4 linked regions of the Homo sapiens genome follow. The protein of the gene in region 4 interacts with the protein of the main gene of each other region in a pairwise test. Each region holds a gene or a part of one and is shown on either strand. Other genes may lie near its edges.

Region 1 (7,751 bases), on a different chromosome or scaffold from region 4:
GACCTTAAACTGCAGGCTTCATACCCCTGGACTCAAGAATCTAGAACTGTCACCTCTAGCTTTAAGTGAGGAGCTAAAGAGGCTACTCAACCTGCTCTATTCACAGAGGCCACCTTCTCCTACCTCCCTCACATCCTGTGTTGTTTATTGGCAGTCCTCCCAGCCTGAGAAGTCTTTCAAGGATTGGAACACTGCCCCAATCAGGGCAGCATACGCTTCAGAGAAATAGTAAAGTCTGACCAACCTGGAGAGCTCCTGCATGAGGCCCAACCCCTAACCCATCCCTCTAAGGGCCAGCTCTCCAGCAGCACAGGAGGCCAAGCAGAGCTGGGAACACCTTACCTTGCTTCCACTGACAGTATGGAACTTTTTCTCCAGAACCTTCTTCACGGGTTCTTCTTCTTTAAAGGTGATAAACACAAAACCTCGTCTTTTGTTCAACTTTGGATCCATTGGCAATTCAATGGCCTCAATCTGCAAAAAGCATAGGCAAACTCAGGCCCAATACCTCCCTACCCCAGAGCATATAGGGGACTCACAGGAGAAAAGACCCCATTGAAGACAGAGGGTGAAAAATAAGCCCTGCCTGGGAGGGTCTAGCCAGCCAAGGATACCAAGGACCAGAAAGAAGGCAGCCTTAGGGGCAGCTGATGGGCTATTCCCAGAGCCACACTCACCTCCCCAAACTCGCCAAAGTACTCCCTGATCTTTTCCTCAGTGGCTTCAGGATTCAGACCCCCAACGAAGATTTTCTTCACCGGGTCCTTCTTCATAGCCATGGCCTTTTTAGGGTCAATGACACGGCCATCCAGCCTGTGCTCCTTCTGGTCTAGGACCTGTTCCAACAGAAAGGGGTCAGGCTGACTCAGCAGCACGAGCCAGACAAGGCCCTTCTCTCTAAGCCATAAAGACACCAGTACAGATACAAACATGTGTTTCACCCCCTCCAAATTCTACCCCAGCTTAACCTCCCAACCCAATTTTCATCAAACCTCAAGTACAGCTGGTTTACCTCGACACCTAGAAAACAGTCCTCACACTTAAGCCTTTGATCATGCTCTTCCTGCCCAAGCAGTCCCAGCGTGAGGCCCATCTCCAGAAGCGAAGCAGCAGGGACTCGGAGCATAGGCTGAAGATGGGCCACAGGGGAAGGAATCCTCCCTCCACTCCCTACTAGCTGTGACCTCTTCTACTTACATTTCTGAGCCTTAGGGTTTTGGTTTTTGTCCTGTAAAATGGGGCTAAAAGCCTATCATACCAATCATGGACTCTCTTGTAATCCTCCCAGATGTTTAGCGCCGTACCCAGAATAGGCACATAAAAGGTAATGAATGTCAACTGTCATCTTCCCGAACCACTCCAGCACATTCTCTCACTCCCAGCTTAATCTGTATTTTCATCCCCTCAAAAACCGGAACATAACCTCCGGCTTTGGGTTTTGCCCAAAGCACTTAAATCACATGCAGACCACACAAACTAGTCATGCTTTAAGAAAGGTGTCCTCTTAGAATTCAAATCGTTTCCACTGAGACTGCTGAAATCCAGTACCCAGCTTACCTTCTCCACACTGGCTGCATCTTTGAACAGGATAAACCCAAACCCTCTTGACCGTCCAGTGTTGGGATCCATTTTTATTGTACAGTCAACGACCTCTCCAAATTTAGTAAAATAGTCTTTTAAATCTTTTTTGCTAGTATCCCAGCTCAGGCCACCAACGAACATTTTTCTGAAATGGTAGGGTGAGACACACGGCAACAAGTCTTGTAAGCAAGCTGTGATTTTGGAAAGGACTGGCCCTGGCAAAGTTCTCACGAAGTCTACAGCTACCCTTAGAGTCTGCAAGGAGCACCTTAGAAAGATGTTAAATCTCCACTACCCTCCAAATTGAACTCAACCAGGACCCTAACGAGGCTTAACAAGGCTCTGCAGCCCCAGCCTGTGAGAAGCAAAGAAGGGACCACCTCACCAGGGGTATGGGACCTAACCACTCATAACTGGAAATTCATGTGTTCTACAACCATGTAGCAAAGGGCCAGCGTCTCCACCAACTCCTGAGAACTCGTTTCAAGGAACTCGATGTTTCCGGGGACCAAGCCCGCCCAGGGTTCAGACCGTGACTCCGCCCCCGGGAGAGGCGGAGGAGGGAGGTCCGGGCCCCGGCTCGCGCCAACTCCGCCCACGCAGCCGCCGGCGCGGCCCAAGACGCCGCCGGGCCCCGGGTCCGAGCGCTTTCCCTCTTCCGGGCCATCCGCCCGCCCCTGCGCCGGCTCCGGCCCTGGCCCTGGCCCTGGCAGCGCGCGAGCGGCCCCGGGGCGGCGCCAAAGTCGACCCAACAAACTCCCGCAAACTCCAGCGCGAGTGGCAGCGCCAGGCCCGGCCCGCGAACGCAGCGGCGACAGTCCGCGGGCCGCACCAGCCCCGACCCGGGCCAGGCCGCCGCCCCTCCCCCCGCCGCGTGGCGCCAACAAAAGGCGGCCCCGGAACAAAGGCGGCGCCCCCGTCCGCCCGCGGCCGCACCTACCCCGCGTCCTCCTCGTTCTTGCTGGCGTTGATCTGGTCGCCCTCGGCGCCGTTCTGATTCCCGCTCGGGGGCGCCGCGGTCGCGCCTCCAGCCCCCGCCGCGGCGCCCGTGCCAGCCCCGGCCGGCGACTCGCCTTCGGGGACGGCCTCATGTCCGTTCTCGGTGGCGCCCGTCGTCTCCATGGGCTGCTCCTCGCCCGCTTCCGACATGCTAGGCCGAGGCGCGGCGGCTCCTGCAACCAGCGGCGACAGCGCGTCAGGCCGGCGCGGCTCCCGCCAGAGCTCCCGCCCGCCGGCCGCCGCTCACCTCGCCGCCGATGACGCCGCGGGGCCCGCTCGTCCCCACCCGCAGGGGAAGGCGCCGCAGGCTCGGCCGCACTCAAGCTCGCGCTGCTGAGGCCTCGCCCCAGTCAGCCCACGGAGCTGCTCCAACTGTGTCTCCTCCTCCTTGGCCGCCGCCGCACGGGAACCCACCGACCAACAGCCAAGCTCCGTCCCGCGCGGTGCCGCCGCCTGACAATGCCGACTCGTGGCGCCCTTTATAATGCCGGAGCCGGGTGCCACATCGCAACAAACTGCACACTCATTGGCTGCTCAAGTCCGTCACTCAACCTAGCTTCAGCGTCCCATTGGCCGCCACGGCGCGCGCGCTCTAGACCTGGGCGGGCTTTGTCCTCATTTTAGAACGCGCGCGAGTCCGGCCGCTACGGAGGGCTCCCGAAGCCGGGCGGGACGGCGCCGGGTCCAGGGCGGCGGGCAGCTACAGCACATCGGTGGGAGGGCCTAATCGGATTGTAAGCTCGTCGAGGCCGCTGGTCTCTTGCTCTCGAGGACTCCATCCCAGCATTGGCAGCCTCCGCCTCCCCATGTCCCAAAAGAGGAAACTGGGCTGGAGAAAGTTTCGCAGCCCAAGGACGCGTGGCTGGAAGTGGCAGAACCCGGGCTTCCGAGGTTGGGCGAGTGGGGTCCTCCAAGGCCCTCAGCACGGGTCGGAGGGATTGGGACTGAACCCGCCATCCCCCTGGACCTTGGTGCCCTCCAAGCCCCGCGCTCGCGCCCTGTCCGTCGCCTCCCCCAGAGATGCTCTGCAGGGACGATGAGACCTTGGTGTTCCCCGGTTCTCTGTCCCCTGGCACCACCTGAACGATTGACATCGCATTTGTACTTTTGTTTACTTAAATTTTTTCCTGTAAATCATTTGTCTTTCTTTTTCTTCCTTTTTATTATTTTTTTTTTTTTGATGGAGTCTTGCTCTTGTCGCCCAGACTGGAGTGCAATGGCGCGATCTCGGCTCACCGCAACCTCCGCCTCCCGGGTTCAAGCGATTCTCCTGTCTCAGCCTCCCGAGTAGCTGGGATTACAGGCATGCGCCACCACGCCCGGCTAATTTTTTTGTTTTTTTAGTAGAGACGGGGTTTCACCATGTTGGCCAGGATGGTCTCGATCTCCTGACCTCGTGATCCGCCCGCCTGGGCCTCCCAAAGTACTGGGATTACAGGCGTGAGCCACCGCGCCCGGCCTTTTTTTTTTTTTTTTTTTTTTTAAACAAATACGGAGGCCGGGCGCGGTGGCTCCCGCCTGTACTCCCAGCACTTTGGGAGGTCCAGGCGGGCGGATCACGAGGTCAGGAGATCGAGACCATCCTGGCGAACATGGTGAAACCCCGTCTCTACTAAAAATACAAAAAAATTAGCCGGGCGTGGTGGTGGGCGCCTGTAGTCCCAGTTACCGGGAGGCTGAGGCAGGAGAATGGCGTGAACCCGGGAGGCGGAGCTTGCAGTGAGCCGAGATCTCGCCACTGCACTCCAGCCTGGGCGACAGAGCGAGACATCGTCTCAAAAACAAAACAAAACAAATACACCACTCGTGAACTCACGAGGTAAAGGACAGGGTGGGGGCGTTGTTCTCTTCCTAATACACAAAACTCCTTTATATTATCTCCTTGACCACAAAATTTTAAAGGCCTCGGTAATCCCGTTATTCCTTTTAATCATATGGGTGGTGGGCCCCAAGGCAAGCAGGATTACAACCTCTGGAGCCTGCAGGTTACCAAATAGCAACCCAGAACACAAGGAACTAGCGTTTCCAGTGGATTCCTGCAGCCAGGACCAGTGTGGTGGGCTGGGCATTCCATTTTCTCTTCTGTATCTTAACAACCAAAGTAAGGTGGTATGGTCACCAATTTTATTTATTTTATTTTTTGACACAAGGTTTTGTTCTGTAACCCAGGCTGGAGTCCAGTGGCACGATCACGGCTTACTGCAGCTTCAACCTCCCGGGCTCAAATGAGCCTCCTGCCTCAGCCTCCCAAGTAGCTGGAACCAGAAACGTGGCCACCACGCCAAGCGAATTTTTTGTAAACACAGGGTCTCCCTATGTTGCCCAGCTAGATCACCAGGTTTTTTTTTTCTTTGAGACGGGGGTCTCGCTCTGTCGCCCAGGCTGGAGTACAGTGGAGCCATCTCAGCTCACAGCAACCTCCACCTCCCAGGTTCTAGCGATTCTCCTGCCTCAGCCTCCTGAGTAGCTGGGATTGCAGGTGTGTTCCACCATGCCGGGCTAATTTTTGTATTTTTAGTAGAGATGGGGTTTTACCATGTTGACCAGGCTGGTCTTGAACTCCTGATCTCAGGTGGATCACCAATTTTAAATGAGAAAACTGAAGTCAAGAGCAGCGGCCCAAAGCTACACAACCAACTCAGGCACTAACTCCACCCAGGCACTGGAGTTGCCCTGAGAATGAAAAATGAAGATACGTGGATTTCAGGCTTCTCTAGGAAAGTCCGAAGATTTAGCTCACACTGTACTGCCTTCCCCCAAAGTAACAATCAAGTGCAGCTGGGATACCCATACCCAGGTGGGCAAGTGCCCTCTGGTTCACCCCAAGGCCACTCTTCACTGTCCCAGGCTAATTCCATAACAGGAAGTCACATATTTCCACACGACCTTACTCATGTCACTGAGATCTGGCAGCAAGGCTTTCAGGGCGGTCTCTAACAAACTGCTCACCCCACCTCCACCCCAGCCCTTGCCAACCCACAGAAATGAGGGCCAGGGCTGTGGCCTGCAGGAGATGATGGGCACAGCTCCCCAAGCAGTGAAGGTAATTCAGGAAATTAAGTTCAAAGTCAAATAGTGTAGGTGCAGCCCAAAGACATTACTGCAGGCATAAATTCCCTTAATCTTCCACGTGGATTTCTTTAGCACGACTCAGAAACACTTTCAGTGACGTGTAAAGTCTGAGGATACAACATTTGGACAGCGCTTAGCAGTTTGCAAAATGCTTTCACCAACCTTGCTTTACTGGAGCTTCAAAATAGCTTTGTGCAGTTACCCATATTTTATACACAAGAATACTGAAACCACAGCTAAAACTGTGGCCATGAAACCAACACGTCCAACTCCACATTGGGGATTGTTTCCAGGGCTCCTGGCTACTGTGGGACAAGGTGTGTCTGAGCTTCTGAGTTCCTTGATGTAAATTAGATCTCCTATCAAAGATCTAATTTATTCTGAGGCTCAGCTGGGCGTGGTGGCTCACGCCCGTAATCCCACCACTTTGGTAAGCCAAGGCAGGAGAATCCCATGAGGCCAGGAGTTTGAGACCAGCCTGAGCAACATGGTGGAACCCCCATCTCTACTAAAAATACAAAAAAAAGTCTGGGCATGGTGGCCCAGGCCTGTAGTCCCCCCTGCTCGGGAGGCTGAGGCACAAGAATCACTCGAACCTGGGAGATGGAGGTTGCATCGAGCCGAGATCGCACCACTACACTCCAGGCTAAGTGACACAGCGAGACTCTGTCTCAAAATAAATAAATAAATAAATAAAGAATCCTGAAGCTCAAATAAGGTAATGGCTTAGAAAACACTTCATAAACTAGAAAGAACTGCAGGCAGGTAGGGGTCAGTCTCAGCAAAAAATAAAAAATGCCGGGCCGGGTGCGGTGGCTCACGCCTGTAATCCCAGCACTTTGGGAGGCCGAGGCAGGCGGATCGAGACCATCCTGGCTAACACGGTGAAACCCTGTCTTTACTAAAAATACAAAAATTAGCCGGGCGTGGTGGGGGGGCGCCTGTAGTCCCAGCTACTCGGGAGGCTGAGGCAGGAGAATGGTGTGAACCCGGGAGGCAGAGCTTGCAGTGAGCCGAGATCGTGCCACTGCACTCCAGCCTGGGGGACAGAGCCAGACTCTGTCTCAAAAAAATGAAATTACATAAATAAATAAATAAAGCCTTCATATTGTATCCAAGGGTGTTTCTGCCAGAGGCAAGGCACCACACTGTTTGGGAAACAGCAGGAAGTCCTTTTGACACAAGCCTCCCTACTTTTGTTATTAGGTTCAGTTACAGACCCTGAGTAGAGGGCAATTCCATGACAGTGAGGTTCTCAAGTCAGCCAGGAGCTCAGTTACCCCTGAAAATCTCTTAAAAGGCCCATAGAGTATACACTCCCTGGGTTTGGGCTATTCAGAATATATGCATAAAATGTGGACAATCTCCAATCTAGGAAAGGACATACACAAAATGCTTTTGGATTGTTTTTTAATTACATGAATTGATTTTTCTCACATTCTTTTTTTCGGTTTTTTGGCTGAGCCTGCAAGGTGGAAGTTGCATGAGTTAACTACAAATATATCGTGCCTCTGCTGTGGCCAACTCCCGCTGCAGCCACTTTCCCCGCTCCACCAAACTCCAGCTCCCCTGCTTCAGAGGAGTCCTCTAGCCAGATGAATCTTTCTAAAACACAAGTCATAAGATCTGAGAGCTACAGTGAAAAAAGGAAAAACTGAAAATGCAAGTCCCATCTTGTCACTACCTCTGTGTGAAAACCCTGGCTGACTTCCCAGTGCTGTCAGGATGAAGTCTTAGCCTTGACTTCGGGTGAATACGAGTGGGACAGACAGTTGGGGCTCCCAGAAATCTGTGCCCCCACCTTGCCAGCCTCCCCTGCTGTGTGGTCTGTGAGTGGAAGAGTTCCTTTCAGGCTGGGGCCATGGAGACTGGGGGCCTTGTCCAGACTTCCCTTCACCCCGCGACCATGTGTTCTACACGGCTGAGCTACCTCATGGAGAAGAGCTGTTCGGCCCACATCAGATTTGACACAAGCTGAAAATGAACCTGTACTGGGCCTGGCACTGAGATTTGGGATTTTTTTTTTCTCTCAAACTGTAGCCTGGCCTACTCTCACCCTCCCACCTGGCCTATAAGGTCCAGCATGAGTCGCCTCAGCT
Region 2 (7,036 bases), on a different chromosome or scaffold from region 4:
AAATGAAAGAGTTTAACTCACTTGGGTTCAGGAATAAGGACTGGCTCAAAAATGTCATCCAGTTTGTGCTGAACAAGTTCTGGCATTTCACATCGGACTGTACCATTGTCATTCTCAATCTCATCTAGATCCAGCTGGAATTCTCGGCGGACCATCTGGGCTGCCTCAGGATGCCCACTCATGCTTCGGGCTTGGCTAAGGGAAGCAAAAGGAGGCTCCTGAACTAAAAGAGACTTCTTAACCAAAGGGCAAGAGTAGCACTGTCAGTTGCCCCAAAGCTTCAGGACAGATGTTCAACTTCTGGTTTCAGCCCCCCTGAATGATTTAAGTCCCTGAGTCTAAGCAAGTGCCTTTAATAGGTAACAACATTGGTTCATGAATATCCTAAGAGGGCAGATAACTTTAATTTGTACTTACATTACCTGCCAAGTTATAAGTATTTGTTCTAGTTCACTAAAGCCAACAAACCTTGTATTTCTATTCCTGAAGGGGCAGAAAACAATAAAATATATTTGTATTGACTCAAAGTTCACTACTTATGAGCAAATATATAAGAAAAATTTAGACTGGCTGGTTCTTTTCCACCAAATTAACCAGTGCTTTAATTTTGCTAATCATAAGTACCATTCCATGCCGTGTTCAGCACATTTTATATTTTGTGAGACCACCAGTCACCCCTTTTTAGAATATTCACTCTTGACAGGTCAGGGCCAGCTTTACATCCAAGAAATAGGGATTCAAAGTTTCCAAATTCAAGTTCGTTAAAATTATACTCATGACACAACCCAAAATAGAGCTGTCTTGCTTAGGAGGCAGTATTTTGAGTCCCTAAGCCAATTTTGGGTTGCATGTATTTTAATTAGCCTTATCTCAAGAATAGGAAACTAAGCACAACCAAGTATAACACAAAGAAGAAAGTGAATCAGTATTTTAGCCACATGACATTGAACTTTTGTGGAAGACTTGATTCATGGGGTACTTATGGACACCCTCTACCCTGATTATAAACTCTAAGCTAGTCACCCTCCAGAGGGGATGAATCCAAGTCAGAAGTTAGAAAGATATAAGAGCCCTGCTAATGAGAAATTAGCAGGCAGTACTTACATCCTATAAGTGCGATACATAATTCTGTCCACGGAAAAGCAGTGAAAGAAGGCACAAGACCATTTAGAAGTGGTTTTGAGACAAAGACAAAGACAATGAAGACTGAAGAATCAAACATTTGGTTACAATACATTTACCCAGACACTCTGTCATGCATGATAATGGCTACAAGAACTCAAGATTATGTTACAGGACAGGCTGTGAGCACACAAGGCAAAGGCCATGGAGATGCTCTCAGACAAGTATCTCTATCTACATACTTGAGTTTGGAAGACATGTCCTCAGCTGGTCCCTTGCGTAACATGTTGGCATTGGAGCTTATGTTCTGTGCACGCTGAGGTTTCTCTTCCACCTGTTTTATTGGTGCAGCAGAGGGTCTCTTTGCTGACCGCTTAATCCTCTCCTCGAGCATGCTCATATCCTTTTCAGAAAGCTGTAAAGAGGCCAAATTTAGAAACCTAACTGGATAACACAATAATATCTATTTTCATATCAAAACAAATAGAACCTTCTATGTTAGGACATGTTTACTTTCAAAGCACCACATTTCAAAATCAACTACTATTAATACCTGCCTAGCTGCTATAGGAAGAGGAGATATGAAAGAAGGAGAGGGGCTGGGCACAGTGGCTCATGCATGTAATCCCAGCACTTTGGGAGGCCAAAGCAGGAGGATCACTTGAGCCCAGGAGTTTGACACCAGCTTGGGCAACATGGTGAAACCCCATCTATACATAAAGTATAAAAATAAGCTGGGTGTGGTGGCACGCGCCTGTAGTCCTTGCTACTCAGGAGGCTGAAGTCAGAGGATCACTTGAGCCTGGGAGGTCGAGGCTGCGGTGAACCATGATCACACCACTGCACTCCAACCTAGGTGACAGAGCAAGACCCTGTCTCAAAAAAAAAAAAAAAAAGAAACGATAAAAAAAAGAAAGCCAATTAGTAACTACAAATAAAAAGGTCAAAAATTAAATGAAGCTTCCTCATTTTTTGTTTTGTCACCACTATCTAGCTGTGTGACTATGGGCAAGAAACTTCATTTTTGGTCATCTGTAAAATTCCCAACTGCTTTATATTCTTCACTGGGTAGTAGTGAGAATTTAATTAGAAAATATAAGTAAACATATTTAAGCCCTGTGTAAATACATGGTGACACTATGAGGTAACTGAAGACGGAGGTCCAGACTCACTCAAACGAAATAAGAGGTCAGAGGCAGAACCTAATGTGAGTGAAAAACTGGCTCACGGCTGTAGCGCAAGATGTGATCTGACAGATACTAGCATCCACACTATACACAAATAAGCACTTTTTAACCAAAAACTCGATGCAGTAAAAATTACAGAGCAGACTGCCAGGCAGAATTTAAACCCGGGACTAGCTCAGATTTCTTGATTCAAAAATAGCACTCATTTCTAAAGCAAATTTGCTATGAATAGAATGCTCAGAAAAGAAAACTTGATTTCCATTAAAACAGCCTAATCAGAGACACCTCAAGGGTCTATCTGGATTCTAGGACACATTGATAGGTTGAGTTGACTAAAAAGTAGTAAAAACTTAGCTACAGTTGAGAGGACAGGAAACCTAACACCTAGGAGATCTTGCAATTCTTTTCACGACATGCTGACAGTGTTCAGAGAAGTCACTCACATTTCCAATCAGTTTGAACACCTGATCCCCATGTACATTGTACACCGTTACAATGGTGTTGAGTGCAGCATTGCGTACAGCATTGTCACGGTCTCCTATGTGAACAGCTATTTCCTTTAAGGCTTTTCCTGGGGTTGGTTGGCAAACATTCATGCCATAGGACTCAACCAGACATCCCAGCTCTTCCAGGCACTCTGATGGGGGAGAAAGGCTAGATTAATGAGACAACACATATTTGGGACAGAGACTTATCCTTACTAGAGAAATTTCCCTTGGCATATATGAAGGACTAAAACCTTACTCTGGCTCTGCCTAGGATTTTTTGTTTACTGCCTTTTATCAGTGAAAAAATGGTATTTCAGCAAGTGCTCCTGAAAGGAAGAGATGCCTGTGAGTCAGATGGCCCCTGTGCACTTGATTTTGTCACCAGGGTGATACTGAGTGGTGCCTGTATCACCTGATACCATGGCTCCACCAGTGTGCAACTCATCACTCTCACAGTCTAAATCAGGAGGTTGGAATCAACTACATAGGCACTGGAGAAATTTATTTGTTCATCTATAAACTATTTCTTCTATAGGCTACTGCTGCAGAGATTCACATCTCAGTTTAAACTGTTTGCTTCACCTGCTCTCTGCTTAGAGTTTTTGGATTTGGTTCCTTCCATGATAAAGGGAAACATCTTGCTAGCTGGGTAGACAAGGCACATCCGGTTCAGGATGGCACGAACATCTTTACGAATGACATCCTTTGGTTCTCCAACCTAGTCGATAAGGAAAATAATGATTAAGTGAGGCATTTCCTAAGTAGCAATGATTCTCCCATGCATTACTATGTTTTGAAAGAATAGGGAAATAGGGATAAGTAGGGAAGGTACCGTGATATAATCAGTAAAAAAGGGAGAGGAAATAAAAGTACAGAAACTGAGGTCAGCTGGGAACTTAAGCAGTCTCCCAGAGAGAGAACACCACATTACCTTGACGACAAGATAGGGGATGAAGGAAGATGCTTCATTCTCAGTAAGATGATATTCTTCTTCACTTAGCAAGGTGAAGAGCAATTTTAAATATTCTAGTGCTTTCATCAGGACGCTTGTATTGGTGTCAAAAAACCTCAGGGTAAGCCACTTTAAGATAAGATCCAGGCAACCAATAACTCCTTCTTTTTCACTCTCCAAGTGCTTAAAATAAAACAAAACAAAACTCCCACAAATAAGAATAATCAAAATCTTAATTCTACTAGGCAAGTGTCTTTTAAATTTTATTGGAGCCCAAAAAGAAAATGACAGATTTTTAAGCCTTCAATTAAGACCTAAAAAATATACACACACATTCATTTATTCTACCAAATAACAAGACAGCTCTAAAAATAGAGAACATAGTATATTCTACTTCCAAGTCATGCAAACTTCAGATTATTTCATAGGGCTCGGTATTTTTACATGTCTGAAATACATGTATATTTATCTATTGCAGACTTACATCAACCATAACAGCAAGGGCTTTGTTATGATGCTGAAAGTCTGAGTGAAACATCTCATCTTGTAACCATTTAGCCACACAGCTAGACATTTGAGTCTTTAGTTGCTCAATGTATTCATCCCGTGGGGTAGTAAAATTCCACTTTAGCACCTGGAAAAAACAAACGGTGAAAAGGGGCTACAGGGTGTTCAACTGAAATGAGGTAGAGAGCCTTATATAATGCAGCTGCAGGAACAATAAAATATTTAAAAATTCAACAATATTCATTTGTAATTAAATATGAATGCAAATTTCAAGGTGTCATACTTCTTGAAGCTTAACAACTCTGAAAATCTTCTAGGAATAAAAATTTTTGGAATTGTTTGTTTTTGAGACAGAGTCTCACCTGTTGCCTGGGCATGGCAGAGTGCAGTGGCATGATCATAGATCACTGTAGCATTAACCTCCCAGGCTCAAGTGATTCTTCTGCCTTAGCCCCCCAAGTAGCTGGGACTACAGACATGCACCACTATGCCCAGCTAATTAAAAAATTTTTTTCGTAGAGATGAAGTCTCAATATGTTGTCCAGGCTGGTTTTGAATTCCTGGGCTCAGGCAATTTGCCTGCCTTAGCCTCCCAAATTGTTGGGATGACAGGCATGAGCCACTGTGCCTGGCCTTGCAATTCTTACTAAAGAAAAAAAAAAAATTAATCCTACATATAACTATATAACATGGTGGACACTGCTGCCACATCTTTGATAGAGAGAAAATTTGAAATATCTATCAAAATTATGCATATCATCATTCTAGGAGTTTAATATAGATACACTCACATATGTGTACAAAGACCTACATTCAAAGATATTCACAGCAGCAGTGTTTGTAATAGTGAAAGACCAGAAACAACCTAAATGTCCAACATAGTGGGCGAAGGATAAAGAAAGGTACATACATACAATGCACCAATACAAACAGTGATACACACATATATACACAGATACGAATGATCTTTCAGATATTTCAAACATCATTAAAAGAAAATAGTGAGATACAGAACAAACAGTACGGCATGTCTGTATATGCCATCTGTATAAAAGGAGGGCTATATAAAAATATACATATGATAGTAGAGGTATAAAATATTTCTGGAGTAATACATTGAAAAAATGAGGACTAATATCCTCCCTGTGGAGGGATACTGGAACAGAGACATGCTTTTCTTACTATACTTTGCACTTTCTGTACTGCATATAATTTTTAAAAAAGATTATGTATTTTGAAAACAAATTTAAGTATCTAATGAAATCAAAGTAACATAAATGACTGAACTAGCCATTTATACAGTCACAAAGTCTGCCTTGTAAGGTCTTAAAAAGAAGGATTAATGAAGAAGCTTATACATCCAATTAATTAAAAAAAAAAATCAATGAAGATACCAAAAAAGCTACTAAATCATTTATTTCTATTTACAGGGAAAAATAGGCAATAACTCTATTCTATAGTTTCTTTTGTAGGAATTAATGCTCCCATAAACTAAATAATATAATTTATAAGCAAAAGAAACACTTAATTCCTAGATATTAAACAATAACATGAATTCAGACAGCAAAACTATTCTTGAATAACAATACAAGCAAAAATCTCCTGACGATTCTTAATCCTTCCTTACCTTCAATCCTTTTTCATCTTTCATCCTTTGCTCTTTTCCATTTGGAACAACAATAAAAATAGGCCCGGATTTGTCTTCATCCTCCTTTAAGCTGGTTTTGCTTGGCATCTTCTTCCCTTGTGCACTCTACAACCAAGGTTCAGGGAATACTGATTAGCTTGGCCACTTCTCCTTAAGAATATGATGCTGCTGCCCAGTAAAAGGGCACTGTAGAAAACAGAGATATCTTTCTACGTGATATTTCACATGAAAAAAACATGCATCACAGAATCTTGTATATGTTTTTGAACAGGTTCTCTAGAAATTTTTCTGAGAATATTCTTAAGTAACTGTTGGTTAGTTCTTGGACTGGCATGTTATGTAGTTGGAAAAACTGCTATTACTGATCATTAGTCTAGGTCACAAACTTTTTGTTTTTGTTTTCTTGAAATCTTCAACACTATTTATAGCTTTCCATATTAATGACATCTTTTTTTTTTTTTTTTTTTTTTTGAGACGGAGTCTCACTCTGTCGCCCAGGCTGGAGTGCAGTGGCGTGATCTCAGCTCACTGCAATCTCCACCTCCTAGGTTCAAGTGATTCTCCTGACTCAGCCTCCTCAGTAGGTGGGACCAAAGGCGCCCACCACCACCCCTGGCTAATTTTTGTATTTTTAGTAGAGACAGGGTTTCACCATGTTGTCCAGGCTGGTCTCGAGCTCCTGACCTCAAGTGATCCACCCACCTCAGCCATTAATGACATCTTGAATGGCATTTACACATTTCCAAACACTTAGTTTGAAAGCTTTTCTGTTTCTTTCCATTGATATTTAAATGTATCTCTTATCATAACAGTGTAACTGAAGACCTTTTGAACTTGCTTCTAGAGAAAGTTACAAGAAATGCTTTAAATATTTAAGTCACTAAAGTGGTTTTAAAAAATAATCCAAGATTTAAAATCTTCATATCAGATAGAAAGAAAATAGTAAACAATAGTACACATATTTAAGGTAAAATTCAAATTTCATTACTGGAATCATTATTATTATAAATGTAGCATGGCCACTATTTCTAGTTGGCCACAATTTCTTTCTAGTATAAACACTAATGTCATTCAGACCAAACAAATATGAGATCATTTATATGAAACTGCTTCGTAAGTTTAAAAAGATTGG
Region 3 (5,544 bases), on a different chromosome or scaffold from region 4:
CTCCCTGCCTCTGTCCACCCTCCTCATGCCAGGAGCCTACCATTCCTACCAGTCCTCTCCTTTCTGCACCCCAGAAGCCTGTCTCCACACTGGAGGAGAGGCTGAGATGTCCTGTGGGTCAGCCTCACCTCCATGTAAGTGTGGATCGCTATCCCCTTCTCCAGGGAGGCTGAGGCCAAGGGCCAGGCTAAGACAAGGCAGAAGTTTCTCCTACTTCAGACTTGCAGGGGTCATAAGCCCCAGCATCACCCTGGAATGCGGGTCACCAGGCCATGAGGCTGAACTAGGGGTGCCCCAGAACTGGGCAAGAAGCCCTGGGCGAGGCTTTGGGGGAGGGCGGCTGGGCCAGGGAAGTACTGTCGGTTGGTGGAAAAGATAGAAGAGTCCAGGAAGGCTGGACACAGGCGGCCAAGCCAGGGCGACCAGGAGACAAGAAGGTCCTCTCCAGGGTCCCGGTTGTGCTAAGTGCCCTAGCCTCCCTGCAGAGGGCTCTCTCCAGCTCCGCCTGCCCTGGGGACCCGTGAAGAGGCCAAGGCAACAGTGCAGTGATTTATTGACCAGACTTTGCAGCAAGAACACAGCGAAGGTGGGGCCCGTACAATCCAGCCTGGCAGAGGGTCTGGCCCCCTTAGAGCAGAATCTGGGGACCCCAGTATATTTCCCTCACAGCCCCCCAAAGTCCAGCCTCACCCTGCTCCAGGCCCCTCCTGAAGTGAGGGGCAGCAGGGGGACCGGGTCCTGGAGGGGCTGGAAGGCAGGTGGTGCCCAGAGCGGGGCTGGCACCGGGTGCATGCCTGCCCCGGTAGCCAGCAGGAGGTGATTCGTGCGGGGGCAGTGGGGGCGTGCAGGCGGGCAGCCAGGCTCACCACACGGAACACTTGTGGGCAGGGTTCATGGGTGAGTCCTTGGGACAGTGGAAAGCCCGGCCAAACTCCTCAAACTGGGACACACTGCCCAGCACCCTGGGGTGGGGAGAGACCCACACAGTGTTGGGCCCTGCAGCCACTCCAGCCCCAGCAACCAGGGGTGACTTTTATTCCTTCCCATGCCCCCTGATCCCACCCCAAACACAAGGAGTGGACAAGGCCAGGCGGGCAGGTGGGCATACCTGTAGTGCTCAGGGGCATGCTTGTCAGTCAGCACCTGCAGGTAGATGGACTGCGACCGCCGCTTGATGCACCAGTTCTGGGTCCAGGAGCGGGGTGGAGGGGAGGAGGGGGAGATGAAGCCAGGCATCCGCCCCCTTGCCCCCCACCCAGCACACAAGGCGGTAGGCCCCCTCAGCACCACAGGACCATCACCTCTGACGGGACAGGTGATGACAGACAGGCTGTCCATGCGAAGCCTGGGCAAGGCAGGACTGGGACTGACCCTGGATGCCGTGTCCCCACCCCAAGGCTCCCAGTCCAATCCCCCACCCAGCCCACCTGGGCAAAGGCAATGAAGAAGAGCTGGTCATGTGTGTACTTGAGCCGGGGAAGTGGGTGCTCTGGGCCGTGCTCCCGCACCCACTTCTGATAGGCCTGGGGACACAGAGAGCATGGACCTGCTATGCCCGCCCACCCTGGGCACCGCTTCTTCTCTGTCCTCCATCTAGGTAGCCCTCCCTGCTCTCCCTGTGAAGGGGGGCCCGTGAATCCTTCCTCTTCCAGTGGACCGTGGCCCCAGCACATGCCCTGCCCCACCCCAGGCCAGAGCTCAGCAGGGTGGGCAGGGAGAGGCAGCTCTGTCCCTCATCTGGAGTCCTCATCAGCCCCCGTCCCTCCTGCAGCAGGGGTGGAGCACAGGCAGGCCGCTCACGTGGTAGGCCAGCTTGAGGCCGCCCATATCTGCGATGTTCTCCCCAAGCGTGTGTTTCCCGTTCACCTGCCGGGAAGGGAAGAGGCCAGGGGGCTGCTTGGGGCCCAGCTGGCCTCCCTCAGGCATTGATACCCTGGGCCCCAGCCCCTAATTCCTACCACCCCTCTCCTTCCCTTGCCCAGAGAGTTTGAGGGGGGGCTCCAACCCTACTCTTTCCTCCCAACCCCCTTGTCCTCCGTAAGTCTGCGGACACTCATTATCTGTCCACGTGAGTGTGCGTGGGAACCGAATGTGTGTGCAGGGACCTGGGCACAGGTTTTGTTTGGACATGTGCACGTGCGCAAGGGTGTGCGTGATGCTCCCGGCCCGTGCCCCACCAGGCCTGAGGGGCACAAGGGGCAGGTGGGGGTCTCACCCGCTGGTTGTAGACAGTGAAGTTGTCATAGAGACGGACGATGCACTCAGCCTTTCGCAGGAAGCGGCTGTAGGAGGCCTCCGTCCACCAGTGCAGCAGGTTCCCTGAGCGGTCATACTGGCCCCCTGTGGGCAGTGCAGCAGGCTGAGACCCACCCTCACCTGAGCCCCCTCCCCTCCCCACCCACCAGCCCCAGTTAGGCCATCCCCTACCCTGCCTCTCCACTGCCTGTCCTGCCCCCTCCGGGCCATCCCCTGGGGCCCCAACAGGCCTCACCCCAGTCGTCGTAGCCGTGGGTCAGCTCATGTCCAATGATGGTGCCGATGCCCCCGTAGTTGAGAGACCTGGGCCCACAGCAGCAGCATCAGGCCCTAGCCCTCCACCCTCTGAGAGCCCCATGCTGCTGCCCAGGCCCCAGATGTCCCCTGGCCGGGCCAGGAGGTGGCACAGGGAGGCCACAGAGGCATCCGTGCGGTCCAGGGGCACATGTGCCTCAGCTTCCTCATGCGCTATGTGAATGCCAGTGGAACCTATCCAGCTTCTTTTAGGAAATCACATCTAACAGAGCTGGCTGGGCAGTGAAACAGGGCTGGAGGAGACAGGAGGGAAACGGAGGCACCTACGTAGGGGTTTCTCCTCCTACCTCATCATTAGTGTTGCGCCACCTTTGAAACATCAAAATGAGCCTCAAACAAGTAAAGAAGACCCCAGGAAGTTACAAATAACAAACCTACACATTTTTCTAAATAACCAAGGATGTAGTGGGGAGCCAGGGTCCACAGCTGTCCTGACTCCTGAACCCAGCTGGGTCTGGGGCGATTGGAGCCACAGTACGCCGACACACACCTGGTAGACAAGGTCTGCAATGCCAGCCCTGCCCTCAGCCACAAACAGGGCAAGCTATGTACTCACTGTGGGAAGTCAGGGTCGTACAGGGTGGGCTGCAGGATGCCCGCGGGGAACACTACAAGAAGGGGGTGCTCAGTGGGAAACCCATCCACTTTCGGACCCTGCCCCGCCCGGCGTAGGGACACATCCCCTTACCCATCTGGTTCTTGTTGGGTAGATAGTAGGCATTGAGCGCCTGTGGGGGGAGCAGCCACCTGTGGAGGGATGCTGGGGTGAATGGGGGGAACACACTCCCTCCCCCGCTACCCTCACATCACAGCTTCCTCGTCAGCCATCTCCTGACAGTCTGGGGGTCACCCTGCCGGCCCCCACCCCATGCCCTGTGCTGGCGTGTGTGCCCCCCATATCTGCATGGCTGTGAGACGATTTGCCCTACCAGCTCCTGCCCTTTCCCCACAACCCTTCCCTGACCCCCAGCTCTGGGCCAGGCACCCACGTGGACTTGTCCACCTCCTGCCGAATCTTCTTAACTGAGAGCTGGATGCTGAAGCGGATGCTGTTCAAGATGTTCTTGAAGTAGGTCTTCTCATGGACCTCAAACTGCAGGAGGCACGGGCGACACTCAGCGGCAGGCCAGGGCAGGGCTACCTGCAGACTGGGCAACAACCTGGCCGTGCAGGCCACCTGCCCTCCTGAGTGCCGTTAGTAGAGGGGCTGTGGACAGGCTGGGCAGGCAGGGTCAGGGCCCACCTCATACTCCTTGTCCACAGCATCGGGTTTCAGCAGGAAGTCCGGGTAGCCGACCATCACCATCATGTACTGGAGCTGCGGGCCGAGGGCAGGTGAAGGTGGCACCAGGCCTCGGGAGACAGCCCCCCGCCCCCCACCCTACCCACCAAGGAAGGGAGCACTAGGCCAGCCTGGGAGTGGGCTTCACAGTGGGGGAGGCAGGCCTGGTCAACTCCACGAAGGCCTCTTTGTCCCTTTTGTTCTCTTTCGCTGGTACACAGTAGGTGCTCAATATATATGGGACCAACCAATGACACTGGGTCCCCCCTCACCTTGGCCCGAGCAGCAGCCCTGGTCTCGGCGTCCATCCAGTCCAGCTCCTCCAGGCGCTGGCCCAGGATGTACTTGATGTCTTCCACTAGCTGCTGCACCTGCAGGGTCAGGGGTCAGGGAGCAAGGGTCAACCCAGCAGCCTGGTCTATCACTCCTGGCAGGAGGGGTACCCCTGCCTTTAAGCACCACTTTCTAAGCCCAAACCTCATTTCTGAACACCAAGAGGATACTTTGGAGGTGAGGATCCAGGCCCTGCACCCCCGAGGGCTCACAAGATAGAGGAGGAAACTGCCCCAGCAATGACCACAGACATCCCTAAGGCCACGCCTCCCGAGCATGCCTGAGAAGGTGGGCTGGGGCCTGGCAGGGAGGTCTGCCTGCAGTTGATAGTCCACATAAGCTTCCTGGAGGAGGAGGCCTGTGGAGGAGCAGCCTGGGGCCTCAGAATCGGCTGAGTACTTAGCAGGGCCTGGTCCCCCTGCCTGCAGGGGACATGTGGGGCTCCCCATATTAGGACCATGGCCTCGGGAGGGCTCCACCCTCAGTTCAGCACCATCCTCCTCTCTCAAACAAGGGCAACCCACCTTGGCTTTGCTGGCAGCTGAGAAGTGCTCATGTACAAAGAGGGCGCCAAGCGCCATGCCAAAGTGGCGATTGGCCTGGCCCAAGCAGACCCGGGCCAGCTCCTGTGGCTTGTCGCTGCCCTCCATCTCCTGTGCCAGCTCGTGCAGTGCCTCACGGAATGGCGGGGACAGGTGTTCACTCAGGACCACCACCACGCGCCACACCAGGTAGTTGTGCAGGACCCTGGGGACCAGGTGAAGCCAGTGGGTGTCCAGACGGACATGCATGTGGGCCACCAAGGGCACCACCCCTACCTGTGCCCGCCAACCTGTGGCTGGACCCAGGACCCAGACAGCCCCACAAAGAAGGGACAGGGGGTCATCCCAGCTATGCAGAGCAGAAAATGTAAAGCCCACCCAGCAGAGAGGTCCAGGGTGCAGGGGAAGGACCTAGTGACCGCTGGGCAGAAAATGCCAGATCTGCAGCCATACCGGTGGGGTGTGGAGCGGATGAGCTGCGACACCTGCTGCATGTAGTCTGTCGCCAGCAGCACCACCTCCTCTTCCTCTGAGAAGTCCTCCTGGAAGATCTGGTCTAGCAGCCACTTCCACCGCAACTGTGAGACCAAGGACAGGGACAGTGAGGCTAGGGTTGGCAGGGGCCACAGAAGACAGGGAGGGGGCAGAGAGAGGCAGCGAGGGGACATGAGAGTCCATGGCCAAGGAACGGTTTGCCCATCTCTGGGGAGAGATGACCCTGTAGTCCCAGCAGCAGCATTGCCCTCAACCCTGCCTGCCCACGAGGACTGGGCCACACTCACGTGGGGGGTGATCTTCTGCAGCTGCCCCAGCGTC
Region 4 (3,310 bases):
CTCTTTTCAGGGCAGCAAGATCTGCCCCACAGCAGTTTTCCTCCTGCTCTGTTACCTGCAGGGATGCAGTTAGTGTTCAAGTTACAGCAAAGAAAAAGCTGAGGACAGGAGAGGAGGAGGAAGATCTCCCAGTACTTCTGTCCCCCAAGTCCTCCCTGACTTGTCAGCCCCAGGCTGCTCTGGTGAATGCACCTTTTACTCCACGCTGTCAGCTCCAGTGCTTCATATACTCCTCTGTCCCTTGGCTATATTGAGATCCTGACGATGCCTACCAAGCTGCCTCTTATGTAGGATCCAGAACCAGTGGGATGAAAGAGCAGCAGGTAGGCTCCAAAAAGCTGATAGCACTGGGGGCTTCATGACCCATAGGACATGAGCTGGGACCCCATCATCTCCCTTCAGACTAGGGCACTTTCAGGGTCTCTCATATATAAACACACATACACACACATACACACCGCAAATGATGGGGAGGGGAGGTGGCCCCAGCATGTGGTGGATCACAGTCACTAAGTCTACTTACTTATTATTTATTTTTAAAATATATTTAAACAGCAGCAGTCACTTCCAAAATGCAAAAAAAATTACAATTTTTAGAATAAAATTATAATGTTTATAATGCGGGTCAGAAGAATTGAAGGTACAACAGAATCAAATCACGCAGCACTGGAGGCGGCTGGAGAAGCCAAAGCCCACTGGTCAGGGGTCCAAGCTGACAAGAAGTCCCAACCTGAGAGGTCTCCACACCCAAATCATACCCCTCAGCTTCCCATTGACAGAGCCAGTGTCCTCTGGGTTAGAGAAGGAGAAGCGGCAAGGAGCTGGCCCTCTGTGTGGGTGTCCCAAACCCAGTCCCCCCCATCAGCCAGGGACCTGCTAATCCACCTCCTCCATGTTGCTGTAGGTGGGGGCTGGCCGATCCACAGGGGGGGCGAAGCGTTCAGGGGCTGTCCGCGTGGGGGCCACCTCGGGGGCCTGGCCAGGGCCTAGTCCCTGCAACAGAATACGAGGACAGGGGTTGGGGGCTGCCCAGCATGCCGCCTGGCATCCCGGGGGTGCTGGCTTGGAGCCCTGGCACCCAAGGGAGGGTCCCAAGGCAGGCGCAGACAGCAGCGGCGTTGAGACAGAGAGACGAGATTGGGCCTGAATAGTCTGGTTTTATTAACACTTTTAAGTACAGGAAGTAGCTTGGGCAGGGCCAAGCCTGAGGCCAAGGGTCAGAGCAGCAGGATGAATGGACAGACAGCCAGATGGATACACACCCTAGGATACTCTGCCCCTGCAGGGGCCACAACCTCCCCACCCTCTCCCACCAGATGCATAAGCTGAGGCCCAAAGCCCAGAGGTGTTCCCCACAACAAAGGCAGGCATGGCCTGGGGCAGGCAGGTAGGCCAGCTCACAGCAGCTGCCTGCAGGCGAGCTCATCTCCAGCGACTCTGGGATACCAGAGGATAGAACACGTTGAGCACGAGGGCCACCAAAGCCGCCACGGTGCCCAGGACAAAGTACCGGAGGCAGCCCTCATCTGGTGTGGTAGGGCCACGTGGTAGGGGGCCCACCCAGTCTTGGGGCCCCCAGGGACCCAGGGGCCCAGACCCCTCAGGCACCGGCTCCTCCTCAGCCTCCAGCTCCTGCCAAATCCGGGAAGCCTAGGGTATGTGGAAACGGCCATCAGCACCCCGGGGGTGGGGAGGACCCAGTGTCCCTGAGACCCTTAGCCATGACAGTCCCACCTGGGGTGACTGGGGCTAACACCCTGCATTCTAGATCAAACAGCAAGGAGGAAGGCAGGCAGCCAACCTCAGGGCTGTCCAGAGTAAGAGCACAAGGGTAAGAGAATCTTGACAGCATTTTGGCCTACCCTAAACAGCTCTCAATCCACATGCAGCTCCGCATGGAGGTGGGAGGGGAGTTATCTGGTTAGTATTTCAGTCCAGGCCTCCCCAAAGGACACCGATTCATAGAGAACAGGACTGCCAATCCCAGAGCAATCTCCTTGCTCCTTCCCACCCATACCCAGATCCTGACCAGTCTTCTGCAAGGATTTCTCTAAGCTTGACAGAGAAGGCTCAAGAGAGGATGGAGCCAGAAAGGAGACGGCCAGTCCAGAAAAGAGATGTGCCTACGCCCACTAACTGGGCCTATGGCACACCATGTCACTAAAGAGAAGATCCTGAAGGCTCAGCAAAGACAGATGCTTACCTCAAAGAGTATAACAGCCACCAGAGGCCATGGCCAGCCCAAATAGGCCTTGTCTTGAGTGCACACTAGAACTCAGGGACATCACAAGTGAGGGTGTGTGGGCCAGCATGTGGGGAATGTGCAGAGGAAATCTAGGAGAGTGTCAGGTATAGTTCATTCACAGCATAGTGCCCAGTGAGGTTCAGAGCAGTTGCCTGACCTGTGCCAAGTAGGTGCCAATGTGCTTGCCAGTGGCAGCATGTTAGTGTACTTGTATGTTTGTTAGTGTCCCCAAGGCATGGGGATGCCTCTGGCTAAAGCTTTGATGTTAAGAGAACTCTGCAATTCTCATGAATCCCAAGGCTCAATGGGCCTGTGGCTGGAGGAGAGGAAGCTATATCCCCCAACCCGGCCCCAGTCTGTGAACTGTCCCCCAGTATTCTGTAAAGCCTCCCACATGCCTCACCTGGCTGGCAGCAGCCTCAGCTGCAGGGCCTAGGTCTGGGTGGTGCTCAGAGTGACCTGCCCTGGGGGGCCTCTCCACAGGAGAGTTCCGCCGGCGGTAGAAGAGTACATAGGCATAACGCGTCACAACCTGGCTCTCGTCTACCGTTGTCACTGTGCTGTCATCAAACAAGCGCCAGCCTACAGCAGGGTGGGAAGAGTGTGAACAAAGTCTGCACCACCACCCCTACCACCTATCCTGCTGGCTGTGTGTGCCCTCACCCACGTCACTGCGCTGACTGCTACGATCATTGGGCAGGCGTGCACAGGCAGTGTAGTGGCCACCAATCATGCCTCCATAGTGGTTGATGACAGCATATAGATCGTAGCTGGGCAGCTGCTCCTCTTTCTGACCAATGCAGAACTTGCTCAGGTCCAGGTTCCTGCAGGTCAGGTCCAGTCAGGGAGGGGTGAGACAGGCAACAGGCGCTCAGGATGCCCATCCTGGTCCTCACACCCCACCCACAGTTACCAAGGTCCACTGCTTACCTAACAGGGAACTCCACCAAGTCATTGATCTTGTCACGCCAGATAAAACTACGAAAGGAGAAGCGCTTGAGCTGCACGATGAGAACATTTGGCAGGCGCCATAGCAACAGCTGCTTGGAGGCCTCACGGTGCTGT

Evidence for each region.
Region 1: the proteins of USP19 (region 4) and HNRNPAB interact in a two-hybrid assay, tested with the Homo sapiens proteins (one study listed by BioGRID).
Region 2: the proteins of USP19 (region 4) and CKAP5 interact in a two-hybrid assay, tested with the Homo sapiens proteins (one study listed by BioGRID).
Region 3: the proteins of USP19 (region 4) and ECEL1 interact in a two-hybrid assay, tested with the Homo sapiens proteins (one study listed by BioGRID).

The regions. Positions count from the first base shown.
Region 1 is NC_000005.10:178,199,817-178,207,567, reverse strand, and holds the start of HNRNPAB (heterogeneous nuclear ribonucleoprotein A/B), read right to left. Parts: upstream 3,036-7,751; 5' UTR 2,828-3,035; exon of another isoform or gene 2,754-2,827; 5' UTR 2,731-2,753; coding exon 2,522-2,730; intron 1,727-2,521; coding exon 1,558-1,726; intron 837-1,557; coding exon 678-836; intron 475-677; coding exon 343-474; exon of another isoform or gene 1-342. UniProt on the Homo sapiens protein: Binds single-stranded RNA. Has a high affinity for G-rich and U-rich regions of hnRNA. Also binds to APOB mRNA transcripts around the RNA editing site.
Region 2 is NC_000011.10:46,759,248-46,766,283, forward strand, and holds part of CKAP5 (cytoskeleton-associated protein 5), read right to left. Parts: intron 6,010-7,036; coding exon 5,884-6,009; intron 4,384-5,883; coding exon 4,234-4,383; intron 3,933-4,233; coding exon 3,729-3,932; intron 3,516-3,728; coding exon 3,380-3,515; intron 3,253-3,379; exon of another isoform or gene 3,142-3,252; intron 2,947-3,141; coding exon 2,753-2,946; intron 1,538-2,752; coding exon 1,365-1,537; intron 196-1,364; coding exon 22-195; intron 1-21. UniProt on the Homo sapiens protein: Binds to the plus end of microtubules and regulates microtubule dynamics and microtubule organization. Acts as a processive microtubule polymerase. Promotes cytoplasmic microtubule nucleation and elongation. Plays a major role in organizing spindle poles.
Region 3 is NC_000002.12:232,479,291-232,484,834, forward strand, and holds the end of ECEL1 (endothelin-converting enzyme-like 1), read right to left. Parts: coding exon 5,511-5,544; intron 5,307-5,510; coding exon 5,182-5,306; intron 4,934-5,181; coding exon 4,711-4,933; intron 4,225-4,710; coding exon 4,126-4,224; intron 3,890-4,125; coding exon 3,815-3,889; intron 3,665-3,814; coding exon 3,561-3,664; intron 3,319-3,560; coding exon 3,260-3,318; intron 3,180-3,259; coding exon 3,128-3,179; intron 2,560-3,127; coding exon 2,492-2,559; intron 2,341-2,491; coding exon 2,216-2,340; intron 1,867-2,215; coding exon 1,801-1,866; intron 1,524-1,800; coding exon 1,428-1,523; intron 1,186-1,427; coding exon 1,109-1,185; intron 963-1,108; coding exon 863-962; 3' UTR 537-862; downstream 1-536. UniProt on the Homo sapiens protein: May contribute to the degradation of peptide hormones and be involved in the inactivation of neuronal peptides.
Region 4 is NC_000003.12:49,107,536-49,110,845, forward strand, and holds the end of USP19 (ubiquitin carboxyl-terminal hydrolase 19), read right to left. Parts: coding exon 3,176-3,310; intron 3,070-3,175; coding exon 2,909-3,069; intron 2,828-2,908; coding exon 2,649-2,827; intron 1,651-2,648; coding exon of another isoform or gene 1,423-1,650; exon of another isoform or gene 1,138-1,422; intron 994-1,137; coding exon 877-993; 3' UTR 515-876; downstream 1-514. UniProt on the Homo sapiens protein: Deubiquitinating enzyme that regulates the degradation of various proteins by removing ubiquitin moieties, thereby preventing their proteasomal degradation. Stabilizes RNF123, which promotes CDKN1B degradation and contributes to cell proliferation.